Linked DNA regions of Homo sapiens. The protein of the gene in region 1 purifies or fractionates together with the protein of each later gene. This does not show direct contact. Each region holds a gene or a part of one and is shown on either strand. Other genes may lie near its edges.

Region 1 (7,887 bases):
GGCTGGAGTGCAGTGGCACAATCATAGCTCAATGCAACCTCAAATGCCTGGGCTCAAGCGACCCTCCCGCCTCAGCCTCCCAAGTAGCTGGGACTATAGGCACATGCCACCATGCCTGACTTGTTTCAGATTTTGTACTTGTATTAGAAGAGCTGGTTGAGGAGTGTATCAGTTAGAATGCTTTCAGCTACAAGTAACACAAAGCTCAAAAAAGTAGATTAAACAATGAGGAAGCATGTCATTTCAAATAAGAAGTCCAGAAGTCAACCAGCTCCACAGTTGGCTAATACAGTGACTCTATAATGTCATCAAGGGCCCAGGTTCTTTCCTTCTCTCCACTTTCCCCACCTTCGGTGTGCTGGTTCTGTTCTCCAAAAGTTCCCTTCATGGTTAAAAAACAACTACAGCAGTTTCCTTTTCATATCCTAAGATGAAAACATGAAGAAAAAGATAAGGGATTTTGCGGGGAGGAAGGAAATAGCTCACTCACGCAGCTACATTCAGCTAGTAGGCTGGCTGAAGGGTCTGGGATGGCCTCACTTGTATATCTGGGGTCTTGGCAGGATATACTTGTAAGTATGAGACTTCTCTCTCCACATTGTCTCTTGTCATTCAGCGCTCTAGAGGAAACTTCTCTTTTTTCTGTCTTTTTAGACACAGAGTCTTGCTCTGTCGCTCAGGTTGGAGTGCAATGGTGCCATCTTGGGTCACTGCAACCTCCGCCTCCTGGGTTCAAGCCATTCTCCTGCCTCAGGCTCTCGAGTAGCTGTGATTACAGGCGCCCACCATCACACCTGGCTAATTTTTTGTATTTTTAGTAGAGACGGGGTTTCACCATGTTGGCCAGGCTGATCTCGAGTTCCTGACCTCAAGTGATCTGCCCACCTCAGCCCCGCAAAGTGCTGAGATTACAGGCGTCAGCCACTGTGCCCAGCCTGTAAATACCATTTTTAAGACTACAACCTCCACCTCCCCAATTCAAGCGATTCTCCTGCCTCAGCCTCCTGAGTAGCTACAGGCATGCGCCATCACGCCCAGCTAATTTTTTTGTATTTTTAGGAGAGACGGGGTTTCATCATGTTAGCCAGACTATTTCTATTAGGCCCGGCCTATTTATATTATTATTACACCGTAATATATAATGAAGGCCAGATGCGGTGGCCATGTAATCCTAGCACTTTGGGAGGCCAAGGTGGGTGGATCACTTGAGGTCAGGAGTTCAAAACCAGCCTGGCTAATAATGGCAAAAGCCAGTCTCTACTAAAAAATATAAAAATTAGCGTCATGTCGCATGCTTGTAATCCCAGCCACTCAGAAGGCTGAGGCAGGAGAATTGCTTGAACCCAGGAGGCAGAAGTTGCAGTGAACCAAGATCGCGCCATTGCACTCCAGCCTGGGCGACAGAGTGAGACTCTGTCTCTAAAAAAAAACAAAAAACAAAAAAAGCTACATAGGCCTCTCACAATTTGCCCACAAAGAAATTCCTTGTGGGCCTCCAAGATCTTTACACTAAAACAGTTCCGTTGAATTTCACCCCGACAATGTACATTGATGGTTTACCATCACAAGCACAGGACAAAGGACAAAACTAAAAAGTCATCCCTCTGCTCGCCTGAAACAAACACATAGCTGACTGCTGCCTCTGCTCTATGATTATTTTATCTTACGTGAAAATGCAGATTATCTGAGCGTGAGCAGAAAGCATCAGTGAAGACTATCAAAGACCCAGAAGAGGACACGGACACATGGAGCGGGGGAACAACACATACTGGGGCCTGTTGGGGGTCGGCGGAGGGAGAGCATCGAGAAGAATAGCTAACGGATGCTGGGCCTAATACCGAGGCAAGGGGTTGATCTGTGCAACAAACCACCATGACACACGTTTTCTTGTGTAACAAACTTGTATATCCTGAACATGTACCCCAGAATTAAAATAAAAGTTGATGACAAAGGCCAGGCAAGGTGGCTCACGCCTGTAATCCCAGCACTTTGGGAGGCCGAAGCAGGCAGATCACCTGAATTCAGGAGTTTCAGACCAGCCTGGCCAACATGGTGAAACCCTGTCTCTATTAAAAATGCAAAAATTAGCCAGGTGTGGTGGCGTATGCCTGTAATCCCAACTACTCAGGAAGCTGAGGCAGGAGAATCGCTTGAAACCAAGAGGCGGAGGTTGCAGTGAGCCAACTGCACTCCAGCCTGGGCGACAGAGCGAGACTCTGTCTCAAAAAACAAAAGCCGTTGAGATGTCAGTTGGCCCAGAAACACAAAGGGACAGTCACAGACTCACTGGACAAGGGTATGGCGTGGTCGAATGGCTAAAAGGTCAGGCACTGTGCCAGGTAGGCACTGGGTCACGGTGGTGAACAAGTAAGTTCCTGCACTCACAGATTTTACGCTCTAGGAGGGAGACAAAAAGTGTTTATGTCAAGCAGTTACTAATTCAAATGAAAGCAAAGAAAAATGGAAAAGAGAGAATGCATGTGTACTTGTGAAGGAGGAGAGTATGCAGGTTATGCAGTGTTGCATTGGGTTCTGGGGAGGCCTCCCTGATTGAGTGACATGTGAGCACAGACCTAAACTGAGGTATCTAGCCTTGCTGACATAGAGTAAAGAGCGAGTGCAAAGGCCCTGAGGCCGAGTGTGGCTAGAGTAGAACAAGGAGGAAAGACAGAAGAGGGCTGCATCCTCAAGGGCTTGTAGGCCACTGTAAGGCCTTTGTCTTTTCTTTCAAGTGGAAACCTCTGGAAAATTTTAAGTAAAGTGACATAATAAAAGGACCCCTATGACTGCAGTGTGAAGAATAAATTCAGAGTGAGCAAGGACAGGAGCAGGCAGATTAAAAAGAGGCGAGCGCAGTCATCCAGGCAAGAGATGATGAGGATTGGGGCAGGTTAACAGTGTAAATAAAAGAACATGACCCAGGCCGGTGCGGTGGCTCACGCCTGTAATCCCAGCACTTTGGCAGGTCGACACGGGTGGATCACGAGGTCAGGAGTTCAAGACCAGCCTGGCCAAGATGGTGAAACCCCAGCTAAACTACAAATATTAGCCAAGTGCGAGGGCAAGCACCTGTGATCCCAGCTACACGGGAGGCTGAGGCAGGAGAATTGCCTGAACCCGGGCGGCAGAGGTTGCAGTGAGCCGAGATTGTGCCACTGCACTCCAGACAAAAAAAAGAAAAAGAATATGACCCAGGCGAGTCTCAATCACTTTAAGAGGTTCACTTGCCAATGTTAAGAACGTACTTGGGGAAAAAGAACACATAACCACAGAAAAATCAGTGGTCCATGTTTTTTTTCTTTTTGAAGCTCCTTTTCTTATGCTATGTTCCCAAAAATTTGGGAAACAAACACTCAGCACCCACACTGAGGGGCCAAATCTCCCCGCTTCTACCCATCTGTTGAATTGAGACGTTAGATGGGCCCGTCTCGAGGGCCCTAACAGCTCAACAGTCGTGTGACGCCATTTGGCCAAGCTTGCGGGGCTTCAAAATGCAGTTTGAGACGACAGGAAGCAGGTAAGGAGAGGGAAGCCAGTCTGGAAGGAATTGAGCGGAGAACGTGGACTAGCCTGGTTAAACACTTGTCCTTAGCCTTCGCCCTTTCTGTGTCTAAAGACCATCGCTCTGAAACCTTGTTCTCCTGAGAGTGCTGGGGTCTTCTCCGGGCCTTCTGAGGAGCGCCGTTCAACGGCAGCAAAGGGCCCACGGAGTCCACTGGGGCTCCAAGCAATTTTTTTTTTGAGACGGATTCTTGCCCCGTCGTCCAGGATGGAGTGCAGTGGCACGTTCTCGGCTCACTGCGACCTCCGACTCCCGGGTTCAAGCGATTCTCCTGCCTCAGCCTCCCAAGTAGCTGGGACTACAGGCACCCGCCACCATGTCCTGCTAATTTTTGTATTTTTCGTAGAGACGGGGTTTTGCCATTTTGGCCAGGCTGGTCTCGAACTCCGGGACTCAGGTGATCCTCCCGCCTCGGCCTCCCAAAGTGTTAGTATTACAAGCGTGAGCCACCATGCCTGGCCTCCAAGCACATTTTGTTTCTGTATTAGCAACAGCTGTGCTCGGCCAGGGACGGTAAAAATATACGGTTCAGAAAATGCACCTCAGTGTGAACCAAATGTAGCTGAGGGCACTTTAACCTGGAAGGGACATCGCCACCTCACAAACTCCGGAAAGAAAGGGACACGGCTCTTCCATCATGGCTGCCGGAGACAGAGCAGCGAAAGGCAACGGAAAGGAAATGGCGCCGGGGCCCGCCGCCATTCTCAGCGGGCCCAGGGCGGTGGGGCGAGAGGGCTGGCGGCGCCATATAGGAAGGCCAGCCACGGAATTTAAGACCCTCCCGGCCTCTGGCGCCAGAGGACTCTGAAACTTGATAACAATATGGAGGACGGTTATTGTCTCTGCAAAGCAACTTCTTCAAGCCGGCCGCGGGGTCTGTACCGAGATCGGAATCAGGCAAAATCCTCTATTCTCTAAACAGAATGCGTTACGCATACTGCGCATCTTAGCAACAGCAGGCCGGCTAACGACGCAAAGAATGTTACGTCGCACCAGAGGCGCTTCCTCCCACCTCATCCCACGTTCTAGTTCGGGTGGCGCGAGAACTCTACGCTCGCTCCGTACTTTGTTTTTCTTGTACAGACCGCAAAATACACCCATCGTCGCAACTGACGTAAAGTGCTTCCAAGAATACCCGTAGTTCCCCGCGGAGCCCTCGGGCTATTCCGAGGCGCTGTTTACGTATCGTCTCCGCCGTACGCAGCGTTAAGTTGGAGCCGACTCAGCGGCGGCCGCCATTTTGTGCAGTCGCTGGGAAGGAAGGAGACGCCTAAACCGCGGCACTGCCCGGTTTGAGCGTAGCCAAACCTGCCCACCGGCTTTGTAGCCCCGATTCTCTGTGTTTTGCTCCCGTCTCCGACGAGAGAGGCGGCGACGGTGGCGTCTGCGACGGGAGACAGCGCGTCGGAGCGAGAGAGCGCTGCGCCTGCCGCCGCCCCAACAGCGGAGGCGCCGCCGCCATCGGTCGTCACCAGACCGGAGCCGCAGGCCCTCCCGAGCCCGGCCATCCGTGCCCCGCTCCCAGATCTCTATCCTTTTGGGACCATGCGCGGAGGAGGCTTTGGGGACCGGGACCGGGATCGTGACCGTGGAGGGTAAGGGTGGGGGAGGAGAGGAGAGGCCTGGCGTGGGGGTGGGGGAGTTGCTTCTTGGGGAGGCCCGGCGGACTGCGAGCCTGGGAGCCTTGCTCTCGACCCGGGAGGCGAGGGGAGGCGACTCGAGGCGAGACAGCGGTTTCGTGCGCGGACCTCGGCCCCGGGGTCACTCGGGACCCGAGGAGGGCGGCCGCTTGGCGACGCTGGGCCTCTCCGTGCGGACGGCCGTCGTGGCGCGGCCCGGCCCCATCCCAGCCCCGCGGGGGATCGGGAGGGGCGGCCTGGCCGCATCAGCCCAGGCCCGGGCTTTGGCGCCTCGCCTGGTTTCCCGGCTCTCGAGCCGGGCCGCTTCGGGCGGGCTGTTCGATGTCTCCAGGCCTCGGCGTTCATCTGAAAAACGCGGATCTTCCTGAGAGAACACTTCAGCCCAGGAAAGCCTTACACGAAATGGCACCCTTGACGTTCTCTCCCCAGAGTTCACTGTTTAAGGCACGGGAGACGAAAAGACCAACTTCTCATTTTTAGAAATAGATTTTAATTCTCTTCAGTTATATTTTAAGTCGGAGGAAATGCATTGGGATGTAAAGCAGTGGAGTTGCTTGCCATCTAAATGACCGTGTTTGGGGGAAGGATGGGTTTTTGGGTCGTTACTTTAGTTTTAATCTTAATATTTCAGCCTTTTTTCTCTAATTGGACTGCAGCGTCAACTATTCTGCCTCGCTAGAAAGTTCTTGGTATTGTGGACCGGGCGTGGTGCCTCAGGCCTGTAATCCCAGCGATTTGGGAGGCCGAGGCGGGCGGATCACCGGAGGTCAGGAGTTCGAGACCAGCCTGATCAACATGGAGAAATCCCGTTTCTACTAAAAATAACAAAATTAGCCTGGCTTGGTGGCGCATGCCTGTAATCCCAGCTACTCGGGAGGCCAAGGCAGGAGAATCGCTTGAACCCGGGGGGAGGAGGTTGCAGTGAGCCGAGATCGCGCCATTGCACTCCAGCCCGTGGCAAGAGCGAAACTCCGTCTCCCCCGACCCCCCCGCTTCCCCAAAGAGTTACGTGACGCCACTTGATATGTGTGTGTGTGACCTTGGTCAAGATCCTACCTTTTGTGAGCCTGTTTCCTCTGAGGAACGTGATAATTGCCTTTACTTTGCTGTGTTGTCAGGAATTAAGAGATAATGGATGTAATAGTCTCACTGTAGTAGGCGCTCTGTTAACGATATTTTCTCCAAACGTTTTTGTCTTTTGTGGTTCAGATCCACAACTGCTGGATTTACTAGTCTCAAGCACTTCAGTTGCCACTTTTTACAAAATTATTTTGATTTATACCTTATTAGGAAGGAAAATATTTTATCTCATTGTTTAGAGGATGAGAGGTGGAATGTTTGCTTCGCGTGTGACAGTATTGCTAAGTTTAGAAGTGAATTTCAGTTCATTGACTTAGAAAAAGAACTTGAGATTATCTAGGAAAGTTGAAAACGACCCAGCAATTCCTCCCTAAGCTTTATACCCTAGACTGTAATGCCTAGAGAAATCCTTGCACAGGTACCCCAGGATCCTTGTACAGAAAAGTTTATATACCAGCATTCGTGCTAACAGGATATTGGAAACAACGCAAATGTCTCCATAAATTGTGGGTATTCGTACAATTGAATCAGCCGTGAAAAAGAGAAAAGAACTTGGATTAATGTGGATAAGTCACAGAAGTGTTGAGTTAAAAAGCACGTTGTGGTAGGGTGACACATTTAATTAAGGATATGTGCAAATATGATAGGAAAGGGAGTGGTTAACAAAATTCAAGGTAGTGGTTATTAGGGTGAAAGTTGTAAGCTTGAAATAGGCACATAGAGGGGCTACAAGTTACTAATAGTGTTCTATTTCTTTACCATTGGTGTTTGGTTTAATATTTCCTTTCACCATATATATGCTTTAATAAGTTATTTGAAAGGAAAAAAGTGAATTACTGATCCATACTTTGAGTATCAGATGACATTTTTTAAAAATTTCAAACGAACTAGCCTTCTTTCATAAGATCTGTGCCCCAACTCTCCCTTTCCCAAGAAATGTTCTTGATTATTTGAATTGCTGTTGTTTCAACTGAGTGTTACACAGTTGAAGTGGTGGTTATTTTGAAAAAGGAATAGGTGAGGTCAGTTCATGTATTTCACATGTGTGATGCAAAAATGATAGGCATTGTACATTTGAAGTAGTATGGTTTTTAATGTTAATATATGACTTCAAAGGTGAATTTTTTTGTAAAGCCAAATTAAACTAATTACTGACCGGATAAAAACATTTGAGCAGCATAGTATACCAGAGAGTACAGTGTGCGTATTTAAAGATGGCATGGATATGCTCAAAAGTAAAAGGCTTTCTTGAATTTTGAGGTCATTAATTATGTCAGCATTAATTATAAACATGGAAGACGGCATATTTTCCAAGAACCACATGTTTCAAATTAAATGTTTAGTGTAGAATAGAATGTCTTGAATAAATAGCCAGGGAAGTAAGGAGAGAGGAAAAAAAAATACATGAATGATAATCATCAGTTTAAAGCCTTAACAGGAATCTTACTTTCAAGTTTTATTTTTTCCTAAGTCACTAAGGTTTGGGTAGCATTGCAATGTGGCAATAACAATGAAGTCTTTTATAATTTGCAAGAGTGATAATCCAAAGACTTTCTACCTCTTGAAAAGTACCTTATTTAGCTGCTTCATTTGCAAGTGTGGCGG
Region 2 (7,000 bases), on another chromosome or scaffold:
GTTCAAATCATACCGTTTTGTATCCTTTTTCTTACAACATATAAACGTTCCAATTATGTCGTTAAAATTTATGGGGAGTCTTAATAGCAACATGATAGAATATCCTATGTTTAACCCAGATTCAGTAATCTAGATAATTGGTTCCTCCCAGTTTTTGCTATTATAAATGCTGTTTTTAACTGACTTTTGTTTTCTTAGATCTGAAGAAGACACTTGAATCATGGGTGACGTTAAAAATTTTCTGTATGCCTGGTGTGGCAAAAGGAAGATGACCCCATCCTATGAAATTAGAGCAGTGGGGAACAAAAACAGGCAGAAATTCATGTGTGAGGTACTGAAGAATACAGTTTGCATTTATGTGATTTATGAGGTTCATTTTGGGGTTAAAAGAAAAATGTTTTCTGTTTGGAGATGTTAATGTGTTGCACATTAGGAAACGACAGTTCTTTATTGTGACTTGACTGCTATTGTAAATCATTTTCAAGTCAGCATTACTTTTAAAACAATCTGACAGGTAAATTATTCTAATTAGAGCCTATATCTTCCTCAGCTTCCTCAGTACCAGTAGTGGGGATGGGAAAAGTTGGATCAACTGTTTGCAGTTTTATAAGCACGTTTAGAAAGCAGAGCAATTCTTGATTGCTTCAAATCAAAGTGCTTAAATACAAATGGAGAGCTTGTTCATGGATATTACAGAATCAGATTTTAATGTGAACCTTCTGTTATATGAGAAAAAAAAATCTGAGCCACTTAAATTATTTTTGGATACAACACAATTTAAGCTTTTTCAGTAGCTCATGCATTCTCTTATTTTTATATTTATATTTATAGAGTATATTTCCTAAAGTTAGCTGTTTGTTGTCTCTTAATGGACTACTGAATTACGACTTTTTAAAATCTCAGAATTACCCAGGTCAGTCTCTTAGTACTTTTTTTTTTTTTTAAAGGTTCAGGTGGAAGGTTATAATTACACTGGCATGGGAAATTCCACCAATAAAAAAGATGCACAAAGCAATGCTGCCAGAGACTTTGTTAACTATTTGGTTCGAATAAATGAAATAAAGAGTGAAGAAGTTCCAGCTTTTGGGGTAAGTACCTATGGCGAAGCACTTGAGATGTATGTTGTAAAGTTGTACAAACTCAATATGCGTAAGAGACTCAAGATAGTAATTTTTCACTGTTTTCAGATATATCGTGTTTCGTAATGAAATTTGGCATCTTGTTTTGTCTCAGCACTGGACAAAATTTCTGAAGATGTGGATTGCATCCTTATTATATACCTGTCTTAGGGGCTTGAGAAATTCCATTAATCTTTGTGTCTTATGGCTTTATTTCATGTATTTATACACCAGAAATTTCAGAGTCTGTTATGTTCCATTCATTACCAATGATAATACTTTAAATAAAATAGAAAAATCAGTAATATTTTAGACATGTTTGCTCCCATTGACACTCCCCCTGCCCCGTAAGCGATGAGGTCTTGCTCTGTTACCCAAGCTAGAATGCAGTGACACAACCATAGCTCACTGCAGCCTCAAACTCTTGGGCTCAAGCAGTCCTTCATCCTTAACCCCCTTAGTAGCTGGACTACAGGTGCATGCCACCACTTCTGGCAAGTTCTTTGTGTTTTGAGGCAGAGTCTTGCACTGTCGCCCAGGCTGGAGTGATCTCGGCTCACTGCAGCCTCCGCCTCCTGGGTTCAAGCGATTCTCCTGCCTCAGCCTCCGAGTAGCTGGGATTACAGGCACGCTCCATGATGCCCAGCTATTTTTTATGTTTTTAGTAGAGATAGGGTTTCACCATGTTGGCCAGGCTGGTCTTGAACTCCTGACCTCAAGTGATCCATCCACCCACTTCCGTCTTCCAAAGTGCTGGGATCACAGGCATGGGCCACTGCACCTGGCTGACATGTCCTTATATAACAAAATAGTATTTTATGCAATGGAGTATTTTTGTGTTTTTTATGTCATGATTATCTTAATTATATTACGTAAGTATGCAACAAATACCTCTGTCTAGTAGGTTGTTTTGGGGGATTTTTGTTTTGTTTTTCTGCCTTTTTTCTTTTTGGGGCTCAATCAAACTCTTGGCCTCAAGCCATCCTCCCACTTCAGCTCTTCCCCAGTAGCTGGGACTGTGGGTGTGTGCCGCTACACTAGGCTCTAGTAGTTTTTAAGAAATAAGGTTTTTTTTGTTTGTTTGTTTGTTTTGTTTTTTAAGACGGAGTCTTGCTCTGTTACCTAGGGTGGAGTGCAGTGCTCACTGCAACCTCCACCTCCTGGGTTCAAGCAGTTCTCCTGCCTCAGTCTCCTAAGTAGCTGGGATTACAGGCACCTGCCAACATGCCCAGCTAAATTTTGTATTTTTAGTAGAGACGGGGTTTTACCATTTTTTGCCAGGCTGGTCTCGAACTCCTGACCTCGGCCTCCCAAAGTGCTGGGATTACAGGTGGGAGCTACGGCGCCTGGCCCACGCCCAGCTAATTTTTGTGTTTTTAGTAGAGACAGATTTTCACCATGTTGGCCAGGCTTGTCTTGAACTCCTGACCTCAAGTGATCCGCCCCCTTCAGCCTCCCAAAGTGCTGGGATTACAGGTGTGAGCCACTGTGCCCAGCCTGTCTATGCCAGTTTTAACAGGGTCCTGTTACTGAATTTTTGTATTCTGCCTTGTTTATGACAGTATTCTGACTCGTTATGAAAGAAATCTTATTTCCTTCCATTCCTTTGACTAAGAACTCGATAGACTTACTTTCCGGTAGATTAACTGCTGGGTAATTATAGTATCTTACAGTCTTTAATTTTATTGGTTTGCCTATCTGTAAAATGAAGGGATTGGGCAAGATCATCTTAAAAATGCCTTCTGGTAGAGAAAACAGTTTTGCAAATGTCTTTTACATGTTTGAAGTCTCCCTCTATTCTTTATCTTTTAGGCTCTTCTCTATGGTCTTGTAGATCTGCTAGTGACAAATTCTCTTATTCTCTTTCTGAAAATATTTTTATTTTACCTTCTTTAAGAATATTTTCACTGGATGTAGAATTCTGGGGTACCAGATATTTTTTTCCCTCTTTTGGTATGTAAGTGGAAAAAAAAAAAAACAATTTTCCTCTTCTCTCATACCACAACAATCAACAAAGAAGATTTCTGTGACTAAATGTGGGGTGGAGGTGGGGGACTTTTTCCACACACCCCAAGCAAGCAATCAGTTCTGCAGCAGTCACTAGCAGGGTATCCTCCAGTTCAACTCTGACACTACCTGGAGATAGCGTCAGACTCCACAGGGTGAGGACTCAGTCCCACAAGACTCCCCAGCCCCTTCAGACACCACTTGCAAGTCTGGGCCTCTAGAACTTCTGACTGACTAGCTTCAAGTTATGGTTTTCATGACTGCCTCTTTGGGGTCAGTTAATTTGCTAGTGTGGCTCACAGAACTCAGGAAAACCTACATTTACCAGTTTATTATAAAGAATACTACAAAATACAGTTGGTGAAATAAGTAGGGCAAGATATGGCGGAGGCAGCAGGGAGCTCCCATGCCCTGCCTCGAACACCATTCTTCAGGAACCTCCACCTGTTCGGCCATTTGGAAGCCCTCCAAACCCTGTCCTTTGGTTTTTATGGAAACTTCATTATTCAGTATTGATTAAATCGTTGGCCATTGGTGACTTGACCTTCAGCCCTTCTCACTTCCCCAGAGGCTGGGAGGTGGGACCGAAAGTTTCAGCCCTCTAATCTTTCCTTGGTGGTTCTGGTGACCATCCCCCCACACCTGAAGCTACCTAGGGCCTGCCAGCCAGCAGTCAACTCGTTAGCATACAGAAAGTCTCCACTTAGGAGATTATAAGGATTTAGGATTTCTATGCCAGGGAAATGGGATTGAAGACCAGATGTACTTTTTTTTTTTTTTTTTGAGATGGAGTTTCGCTTTTGTTGCCCAGGCTGGAGTGCAGTGGCATGATCTCGGCTCACCGCCACCTTTGCCTCCGGGTTCAAGCGATTCTCCTGCCTCAGGCAGGAGTATCTGGGATTACTGGCATGTGCCGCCATGCCCGGCTAATTTTGTATTTTTAGTAGAGACGGGGTTTCTCCATGTTGGTCAGGCTGGTCTCCAACTCCCAACCTCAGGTTATCTGCCCGCCTTGGCCTCCCAAAGTGCTGGGATTACAGGCGTGAGCCACTGAGTCCAGCCAGAGACCAGATAGGCTTTAAAGATAATATGACACTGTCTACTTGCTGTTTTCTGTAAGAAGTCAGCTATAATCAAATCACTCTCTCCCATATGTAATGTGGTAGTCTGTGTTTTTAAGATCTTTTCCTGTTATTTTTGGTTTTTAGTATTTTGTGTTGTGACCGGGCATGGGTTTTTTTGTATGTGTGTGTTCTAACTTGTTCAAGGTTTGCTGAGATTATTGAATCCATAGATTTATGTATTTCACCAACTTTGAGAGACTTAGCTATTATTTAAGATATTTTTTGTTTTATTTTTTCTTCTTTCCTCTTGGTGTTTATATTTATAAAGACTTGATATCCCACAGGTCCCTGAGGCTCTCTTTTTTTTTTCCTATCATTTTTTCCACTGTTTCTCAAATTGAATAATTTTTATTGATTATCTTCAGATTCTTTGATAGTTTTTTCTGTCCCTTCCATTTTGCTAAGCCCACCCAGTGTATTTCAGACACTACCTTTTTCACTTTTAAAATCTCCAGCTTATTCTTTTCTGTATGTTTTCTCTGGTGGCATTTCTTTTCATTCGTTATAAGTGTATGTTTGTAATATAAATATGGATTTCTTTTATGTCATGAAGCTTAATTCTAATAGCTGCTTTAAAATCCTTGCCTACTACTACTAACATCTGAGTCATCTCAGGGTTGGATTCTCTTGATAGGTATATTTTCTTGAGGTTGGATCACATTTTCCTCTTTGTGTATCAAATAATTTTTTATTGCATTCTGGGCATTGGAATATTATGCTGTGGAGACTCTGAATAATGTTATACTCCTCCAAAGAGCATTGATTTGGTTTTTTTGTTTTGTTTTGTTTTGTTTTTAATCAGGCATTTAATTTAACTGGACTCAAACTGCAAATGCTGTCTTTTGGATGTTAACTCAGATCTCACCTCAGTTTTCTGATCATTTAGGACAGCCATGGAAGAGTCCTTCAGGTCTCCTTTGCTGGGCAGCTTGGAATCTGCCCTGTACATGAGTGGTTTTCAAGGGTTAGCCAGAGATTTCAATATACAGAATTCGGGGCTCCTCCTCTCTGGCTGTTTCCTTTCCAGCATTCCCTCACTTTCTAGCAGCTTTGCTTTCCCTGAACTCTAATTCTGATTCTTCAGGCCAAAAAGATGGTTTCATTGGAGGTTTAGCTGCCTGGGATGGCTTCTCTCAGGCTAAAAGCTACAGTAAACTGGAATTAGACCCTTGATACTCCGTGCTTCCCCATTTTAACTTCTCTCAAGAATCTACCTGCTTTTTTCGTTCATTTTTTATTGCCTGCATATAGTTCTGGTGTGTTGTGTGTGTGTTTGTATTTTTTCCCCCTAAAGTTTATTTTACCTGCAGGAGGGTCAGTCTTACAGGAACTTACTTGGCTACAACCAGAAGTAATCCCCTAGGTGATTTTTTTATTATTGTTTTAACATGGCTCAGGTGTTTCCTATTAAATGCTCTGTGGATTTCCTACTTTCTTCCTTATTTCCTCTGTTCCAGCTACAGTAGCTGTACTTCTTCATAGGTCTTCAAATAAGCCCTCATCTTTCTGCCTCAAAACTTCTATACCTGAAGGACTCTTCCCCAGCTGTCCTATTTAACATTATAAACATTGTCACCCTCAGGTTACTTCCTAAACTCCTTCAATGCTTTATTTTTCTCCGTAACACTTACTTTTTAACTCAGTGTTTCTCAACTGGAGACCATTTTGTCCCCTCAAGGGATGTTTGGGGATGTATGGAGATATTTTTGTTGTTGTAACTCGAGGAGGCCACTGACATCTAGAAGGTGAAGGCCAGGGATGCTGCTAATGACCTACAATGCACTTGACAAACTCCTACAACAAAGAATTAACCAGCCTAAAATGTCACCAAGATGAGAAACCTTGTTCCAACGTAATTTATTTTTGTTTCATTGTATTAGAATGTAAGTTCGTGAGGGCAGGGATTTTTTTGTTTTTAGTTCGTTGCTGTGTCTCCAACATTTAGAATGGTTCCTGGTCTATAGCAGATACTTAAATGTTTTTTGGTTGACTGAGTAAATGAATGGATGAATTTGGAAAAAAAAATTATAACAACCCATTTCTACTTTTAACCCCACTGTATTATTAGTCCATTCTTGCATTGCTATAAAATACCTGAGACTGCATAATTTATAAAGAAAAGAGATTTAATTGGCTCACAATTATGCAGGCTTTACAGGAAGTGTGGTACTGGAATCTGCTTGACTTCTGAAGAGGCCTCAGTAAACTTAGAATGATGGCAGAAGGTGAAGGGGAAGCAGGGATGTCCTACATAGCAGGAGCAAGAGAAAGTAAAGGGGAAGATGCCACACACTTTTAAATGACCAGATCTCATGAGAACTCACTCACTGTTGCTAGGATAGCAGTACCAAGGAAAGTGGTACTAAACCATGCATGAGAAACCCACCTCATGATCCAGTTACTTCTCACCAGGCCCTACCTCCAACATTGAGGATTAAAATTTGACATGACATTTGGGCAGCGATACGTAACCAAACTGTTACCAGCTACCATCTTTATCTTACCTCCTCATTCTAGGGAAATCCTTTTTCATAATCACTTATTTCATCTGGAACTTACCCTTTCATGCCATAAATTGCATTTGCCAAAAGTGAGCATGTAGAGGATATTTTAAAATTTTTTTTGCTGTGGACAATTGTAGATGTGTATAAAAGAATAATATAGTGAAACTCCATGTTTCCGTCATCTGGCTGCAACACTTTCAATTTTACTCATTTCTAACTACTCCCCTTTCTTAGATTATTTTGGAGC
Region 3 (6,846 bases), on another chromosome or scaffold:
TAGAAACATTCAATCACTTCCATATTCACAAATATGAGGAAATTACCTGATTGTTGTGGTAGAAGTGTCTTTGCCTACTAAAAAGTGGTGTCTGCCCTCTCTGATCTGCTGAGCCCATGTGGGATGAAACCATATTACATGTGAAAAATGGCCAGCATAAACTGCAGGCATAATCCAATTTTCAATACTTAATTCTCTGGAAAAGAAACATAGAGACAACATTAAAACTTTTATTTTTATTTTTTCCCAAGTGTAATTTTATCCACAACATTTTAAGACCACAGGTCTCAAAGTGTGGTCCCTAGAGTGGTTCCTGAGACTTTTTCAGGGACATCACTATTACAAAACTATTTTCATGAAAATACTAAGGCATTATTTCCTGTTTTCATTTACTGACATTTGCAAAGATGGTGCAAAGGCACTGGTGGGTTGATGTTCCAACATTAATTAAGGCAGCAGCACCAAACTGTTAGTAGTTACTATATTCTTCATTACCAACCACTGCCAAAATAAATAAATAAATAAATATAAAAGTGTCATTCGAGAACATCTTGATTTTATTAAATTTCCATCCTGAGTATACATTTTTAAATATTATGTGTGGCAAAATGAGAAATGCACAGAAAGCTCTCCTGCTACATAGTTTGAAGCATAACAGTTGTCTCAAGGAAAAGCACTTGTGATTGAACTTTGAGGTGAACACCATTTATCTTGAAAGGAGTGGTCAAGAAACTATGGTTATTCACACTTGATACTGAATTGCTGAATTCTACATTTCAAATAAGCTTTAATAAACTACTACTTTTCAAGTTTTGGCGCACTATCAAAGAATATTCACAATTATCTAAAAAGGCTATCAAAATATTCTTTCCTTTTCCAATTACATGCCTGTGAAAGCCTGAATCTTCATCATATATTTCAACCAAAACAGCATATGGCAATGGACTAAATGCAGAAATAGACGTGAGAATCCAATGGTCTCTATAAAGGCAAATATTAAAAGGATTAAACATTGGCTAGGCTGTTTTTGTAAACAAAGTTTTTTTGGTTTGTTTCTTTTAAGAGATGGGGTCTGGTTATGTTGCCCAGTCTGGAGTGCAGCAGCTATCCACAGGCTTTGATCACAGCCTGGAACTGCTGGCCTCAAGTGATCTTCCCACCTTAGCTTCCTGAGTAGCTGGGACTACAGGCTCATCCACCATGCCCAGCTTGTAAATAAAGCTTTATTGGAACACAGCTACTGTCATTTGTTTACACAGTGCTTGTGATTGCTTTCACACTACAAAGGCAAAGATTAATAGTTGCAACAGAGACCATATAGCCAGCAAACCTAAAATATTTGCTAATCTGGCTCTTTAAGAAAGTTGTCAACACTTGTTCTAAATAAAATGAAAAAGACAAAAAGACAAACAAAAAACCCCCAAACCCATGAGTTTAGCAAAGTCTATTTCCTATAATTGCTTATTATCTACTGCAAATTGTACTTCAAACACAAAAGACCATAAATAAAATCACATATTACCCAAAGAGTGTTTCCTTATCAAACACGGTGTCTGCTGGCATATTCACAGGAATAAGGAGGTCTGGATGTGAGTCGAAATGTAAAAAACTTACATTACTGGCAGGAAGATGCTTTGAGCCTATGGCCCGGTATATAAAGGGTAGAACCTGTAAAAGACACAGGCACACAATAAGAATTAACACTGAAACCATGAGCACACACTCAACTGCAGACTGAAAAACAATGCTAAATAATGCACATAATTGAAAGCATACTATGTTGCTGTAAAGTGGAAAAACATAAAATTTGTTTACTGTAGATGGTGCAGATGATAATCTCAAGCATTACTTTGTCCTCAGAACTTCCAACCTGCATCTCCAGCGGCCTTCCTGCTGCCCCCTTGAACTCAACAGGTCATGTGGGGAAACAGACCAGGACTGGGGCTCAGGAACAAACTACCGCTTAATGCCTGTTCTAACATTAACTAGGTGTTCAAGGTACCCTAGGTCTCAAAGTATTCTTTTTTTTCCTTTAAAAAGGGATAGGGGCTTGTCAGTTGCCCAGCCTGGAAAGCAGTGGTGTGATCATGGCTCACTGCAGCCTTGGACTCCTGGGTTCACACGATCCTCCCACCTCAGTCTCCTGAGTAGCTGGGATTACAGGCACGCACCACTACGCCCAGCTAATTTTTTCACTTCTATTTTTGTAGAGATGGGATTTCGCTCTGCTGTCCAGGCTGGTTAGGGTCTTTTTGGTACACTTAGAATGGTGGGGTTGGGCTAGGTGGTCTATAAAGGCCATTTCTCCTCTTACATCTTCTCTAATTCTAGGTTTAATACCTAATTTGAAAGCACCGTCTAACCTAGGCTTTCTCATTCTCTCAAGGTCATAGACACTATATCCAGGTCCTGAGAAACCTATCTTCCTCTCCTATTAGCTGTCACCAACAGTAAATCCCTCTTCTTTTTTAACGTCCAGAGAACTGCCTCCCATCCCAAGCCTACTGATGCTACTTTAAAACATATTTATTAGATCCATGGGCCTCCTTTGTTGACTTGGAAAAGTCTAGATTAAGACACCAATTTGGCTACTGTAAATCAGCACGGCCATAAACATGGAAACCCCTTTTAGTGTTTATCTATGCAGGGCACCGTGTTAAATTTTTTTTTTTTTTTACGCAATATGGGCCGTGCGCAGTAGCTCACGCCTGCAATCCCAGCACTTTGGGAGGCCGGCGGGGGCCGATCACGTGAGGTCAGACTTTCAGACCATCCTGGCTAACGTGGCGAAGCCCCGTCTCTACTAAAAATACAAAAATTAGCTGGGTACGGTGATGCGTGCCTGTGATCCCAGCTACTCAGGAGGCTGAGACAGAAGAATCGCTCGAACCCAGGAGGCGGAGGTTGCAGTGAGCCGAGATCGCGCCACTGCACTCCAGTCTGGGTAACAGAGAGAGACTCCGTCTCAAAAAAGAAAAAAAAAAGATTTTTAAACACAGTATGCACACAATAATACTCCTAAGAGCCCTGTGAGTCCTACGATTACTGTCCCCATTTCAGATCAGAGCCCACGTTCCAAGCATAAAGCCTCCCATCTAAACAGCAGGGCTGTGGTGGCGATTCCAGGAGATACTTGGAAGCCAGAGTTAACTGCAGGTTAAGAACACAGGGCTCTGCAGCCAGACTGTCCGGTTTCGAATCCCGATGCCACCTTTTGTTTGGTTCTGGGATTTGGGGGCAAACCGAGGTAAATAAGTTGCCCCGACTCGTAGGAAGCGCCCATAAATGTCAGTTCTCATTCTTCCTAGTTAGCTGTTTTGGGGTCCTCTCCACAGCAACGGAATAGGGCAGTTTAACTCTGGTTAACTCTCTGGCCTCCGATGCTAAGGTTGCGCCCTCTGCTTGGCCCTCTGAGCGTCAGGGCTTCCGCTGATTCTGCCCCAGAGCCCTGTTGCCGTCCGCTCACCTCCTGATGATCCTCCACCACCCACACTGGGAGCTTGGGGTAACGCCGGAGACCAGCGCGCCCTCCCGCGGAGTCACTCATGTTTTTGCGCCCGTCAGTTTTGCAGTAAAGCGGTGGCAGCTGGAGAAGACCCGGGAAAGCCGGCGCCTCATCCCGGCCAGCTCTCTCCGGGCGGAAGCGCTCCCTCACCCGGTTGCGTTTTCGGATTGGAGGACGTAGGGGGAGGGGGCGCGGGCTCCAAAGGGTCTTTTGCTGACGATTGGTCTAGACGTCCATCGCTTTCGTTGACGCGCCAATCACCGCGCACAAGGCCCTGCGGTGGGCTGAAGAGTTTTCCCTCCCTTGGCCCAGCTTTCTCAGGTTTGCTTTTTAATTCCCTCGGTTTCCTGTTCCGGAGGCGCGGGCGGTGCCACTGTCTTGGTACCTGCGGTAGTAGCCTGGCTTTGCTCTGACGGCGATCTCGCGGCCCGAGAGCCTTTTATAGGTAAAAGGGGTACCTTGCAAGTGTTAGAAGAGAGTTTCCGAGTGTCAGGATTTAAACGGGGCTGGAGTCTCCGGGGCTGGGGTGAAAAGCGTCCGGGAATTGGGGTCGGGCAGCCCCACTTCAGATCTGCAGCTAAGGGCAAAAGAGCGACGCTAGGCCTGGATCCCGCAAATAAGTGGAAGTGAAAAAGGAGACCTTTCATTCATTTGTGGAGCACACACTATGGTCCAGGCCTGGGGCCGCCCGGCTCTCGGAGGGGAGTGAGATCCTGAGCTCAGCGCCTGCCTCGTGGGGCGTACCGTCTGGCGGGAGATGCAAACAGTAAATGTGCAGTTATGGATCAGGATGAAGGTGACTGCCCTGCAGATCCACCTGGGGAAAGAGGGAGTTCTCAATAAAAATGTAGTCACACTTTAAAATTCTTTTTACATGCACTGACGTTCTGGCCGTGTTAACTATTCAAGACAGCTCCTTCAGTGTCTCTGTTTCCAAACCGCAACCGAGAAGAGACAGACGGAGAAAAGAGAGTTACTTTTCCAGGTGCAGTGAATTCCTTGACTTTTGAATTAAAGTCTGCATCCACAACACAGCCGGACTATGCCTTCAATAGGTCAATTTCATGATTAGTATTTTTAGATTTTCTAACTACTGAAACATCCATGAGGATCTGGCAGTGAATGTTCAGCTCTTGTTACACACTGTACAAGAGTGTTCGTGACCCTGACTTTTGCCCACCTCTAGGTGCGGCACACACCTTTGTGTTCCCCTAAGCCCTGCACATACCTCTTTTTTGTGTGTTTATTGCATTATTTTGTATTTTTAAAACACTTACTTGTACGTGGGTTCTGAGTTCCTTGAATCCTACAGGCTGTGTGTCTTATTATCTCTGAGTCTACAGGGCCTGGGACAGTGCTTCCCATTTATGGGCTCATTAAATATTGCATGACTCAGTGAAAAGGCCTGCTTTCTGTTGCGGAGGTACATGGAAGGGAAATGTACAGTAGCAACATGGAAACATACTATTGGTGAGAGAGTAAACATTTATTGACCACCTACTGTGTGTAGGTTGCTTTTCCCGGGGATGTGAAGGATACAGAAATGACTGTGAATCAACCCATATCATCAAGGAGCTGATAATCTAGTGGAAGAGTTAGACGTGTGCATACTTCACTATGATATGAGGCAGTCTCTGGTAAGTGCTGTAAAAGGATTAAGTATAGACTAAGTCTAGAGGGAATGGGATTACCTAAGGGAATCAGGAAGGGCTTCATAGAGGAGGTGGCATTTAAGATTGATAGATGGATAGAAAATCACTGGGCAGATTCATACGTTGGGAGATTTTTTTTTTTTTTTTTTTTTGAGCTAGAGTTTCGCTCTTGTTGCCCAGGCTGGAGTGCAATGGCGCGATCTGAACTCACTGCAACCTCTGCCTAGGGTGGGAGATTTTAGAGAGGAGAACGGGAGCAAAGAACTAGCTGGTTCTTTGTACTCGAATGGTAATCTGTTGGGAAAACATGGGGTAGTAGGGTCTTTCTGGGGAAGGTACTGGAGAACAAGCCTGGGTCCAGAGTCAATAGAGCCTTAAATGCCAAGCACAGAGGTTGAACTTGATTCTGTTGGCAGTGAGTAGCCTATGGTGGCAGGAGCACCTGTCCGGGCCCCAGGTTTATCATGAGGGTACTGGACTGGATAATAGTAATAAGGAGTCAGGCGCAGTGACTCACGCCTGTAGTTCCAGCTATTTTGGAGGCTGAGGTGAGAGGATTGCTTGAGCCCAGGAGTAAGAGACAGCAGTGAGCTATGATTGCACCACTGCACTCCAGCTTAGGGACAGAGTAGACTTTGTGTCTTAAAAAAAAAATCAGATATTATTTGGTGCCTATTATTTATTAAGCACACTGACTGCTAGCATAATCTGAAATTATTTTCATGAGCCATTTGAAAGTCTACATAGTAAAGTTCTATTGATGAGACTTTTAGAAAGACTTTCAGAAAATGTTTCTATGTTACAGCTTTTTGTACTCAATATTTATGTGAGTTTTTAAAAAATGTTTTGCTGAAGTTCAAGTATTTGGAAAATCATTCATGTTTACAGTGTTTTTATGTGGGAGGAACTGAGAATGAAAATTAAGAATCATTAACTGGTGTGTTAACAAGATTCTGGTTATGTTTGAATTTGAATGCTGGTCTCACTGTGATTTTTGTGTTTGGTCTATGCCTACATGGTTTGTTTTTTTTTTTGTTTTTTTTTTTTTGTTTGTTTTTTTGAGACTGTCGCCCAGGCTGGAATGCAGTGGCGCCATCTCGGCTCACTGCAAGCTCTGCCTCCCAGGTTCATGTCATTCTCCTGCCTCAGCCTCCCGAGTAGCTGGGACTACAGGCGCCCACCACCACGCCCGGCTAAGTTTTTGTATTTTTAGTAGAGACAGGATTTCACTGTGTTAGCCAGGATGGTCTCCACCTCCTGCCCTCGTGATCCACCTGCCTCGACCTCCCAAAGTGCTGGGATTACAGGCGTGAACTACCATGCCCGGCCTATGCCTACCTGTTTTTACCATGAAGGAAACGAGAGTATGAAGGGGGAGAGGGGAAATGATATTTTTCCCAAGTCTTTTAACAAATTAGAGATGATCTATGCCTATAAGTCTTTTTAGCTGCTGATAGTTTTGAGTTGGCAAAACTAGTAATAATGACATTTTAAAATTTAAGGACATTAAAAATTTAGTTGGAAACTTTAACACAGTTCAACATGCTTTTAATTTTGTTTGTAGGCTAAGTGTATTGGAAACTACAAAATTAGTGTTATGGTAATTGCAGAAATATTTTGTAGCATTGGCAGTTTGGGAAACATGTTTATGTCTGTTTTATTCTTTCTGTTTTTTAGAGCTTATATTCT

What was found. The genes of interacting proteins can lie anywhere in the genome.
Region 2: the proteins of DDX17 (region 1) and DHX9 fractionate together in Homo sapiens (co-fractionation; 3 studies listed by BioGRID and IntAct, with this or other methods). This does not show direct contact.
Region 3: the proteins of DDX17 (region 1) and DROSHA purify together in Homo sapiens (co-immunoprecipitation; 3 studies listed by IntAct, with this or other methods). This does not show direct contact.

The regions. Positions count from the first base shown.
Region 1 is NC_000022.11:38,503,221-38,511,107, reverse strand, and holds the start of DDX17 (probable ATP-dependent RNA helicase DDX17 isoform 1 precursor), read left to right. Parts: upstream 1-4,796; 5' UTR 4,797-4,870; coding exon 4,871-5,157; intron 5,158-7,887. Other genes in the region: DMC1 (meiotic recombination protein DMC1/LIM15 homolog), read left to right, coding at 1,680-1,815. UniProt on the Homo sapiens protein: As an RNA helicase, unwinds RNA and alters RNA structures through ATP binding and hydrolysis.
Region 2 is NC_000001.11:182,842,347-182,849,346, forward strand, and holds part of DHX9 (ATP-dependent RNA helicase A), read left to right. Parts: intron 1-198; 5' UTR 199-220; coding exon 221-331; intron 332-947; coding exon 948-1,088; intron 1,089-7,000. UniProt on the Homo sapiens protein: Multifunctional ATP-dependent nucleic acid helicase that unwinds DNA and RNA in a 3' to 5' direction and that plays important roles in many processes, such as DNA replication, transcriptional activation, post-transcriptional RNA regulation, mRNA translation and RNA-mediated gene silencing.
Region 3 is NC_000005.10:31,529,094-31,535,939, reverse strand, and holds the start of DROSHA (ribonuclease 3), read left to right. Parts: upstream 1-3,846; 5' UTR 3,847-3,950; intron 3,951-4,414; 5' UTR 4,415-4,490; intron 4,491-5,015; 5' UTR 5,016-5,142; intron 5,143-6,834; 5' UTR 6,835-6,846. Other genes in the region: UPF0489 protein C5orf22, read right to left, coding at 47-196, 889-981, 1,523-1,668, 3,467-3,547. UniProt on the Homo sapiens protein: Ribonuclease III double-stranded (ds) RNA-specific endoribonuclease that is involved in the initial step of microRNA (miRNA) biogenesis.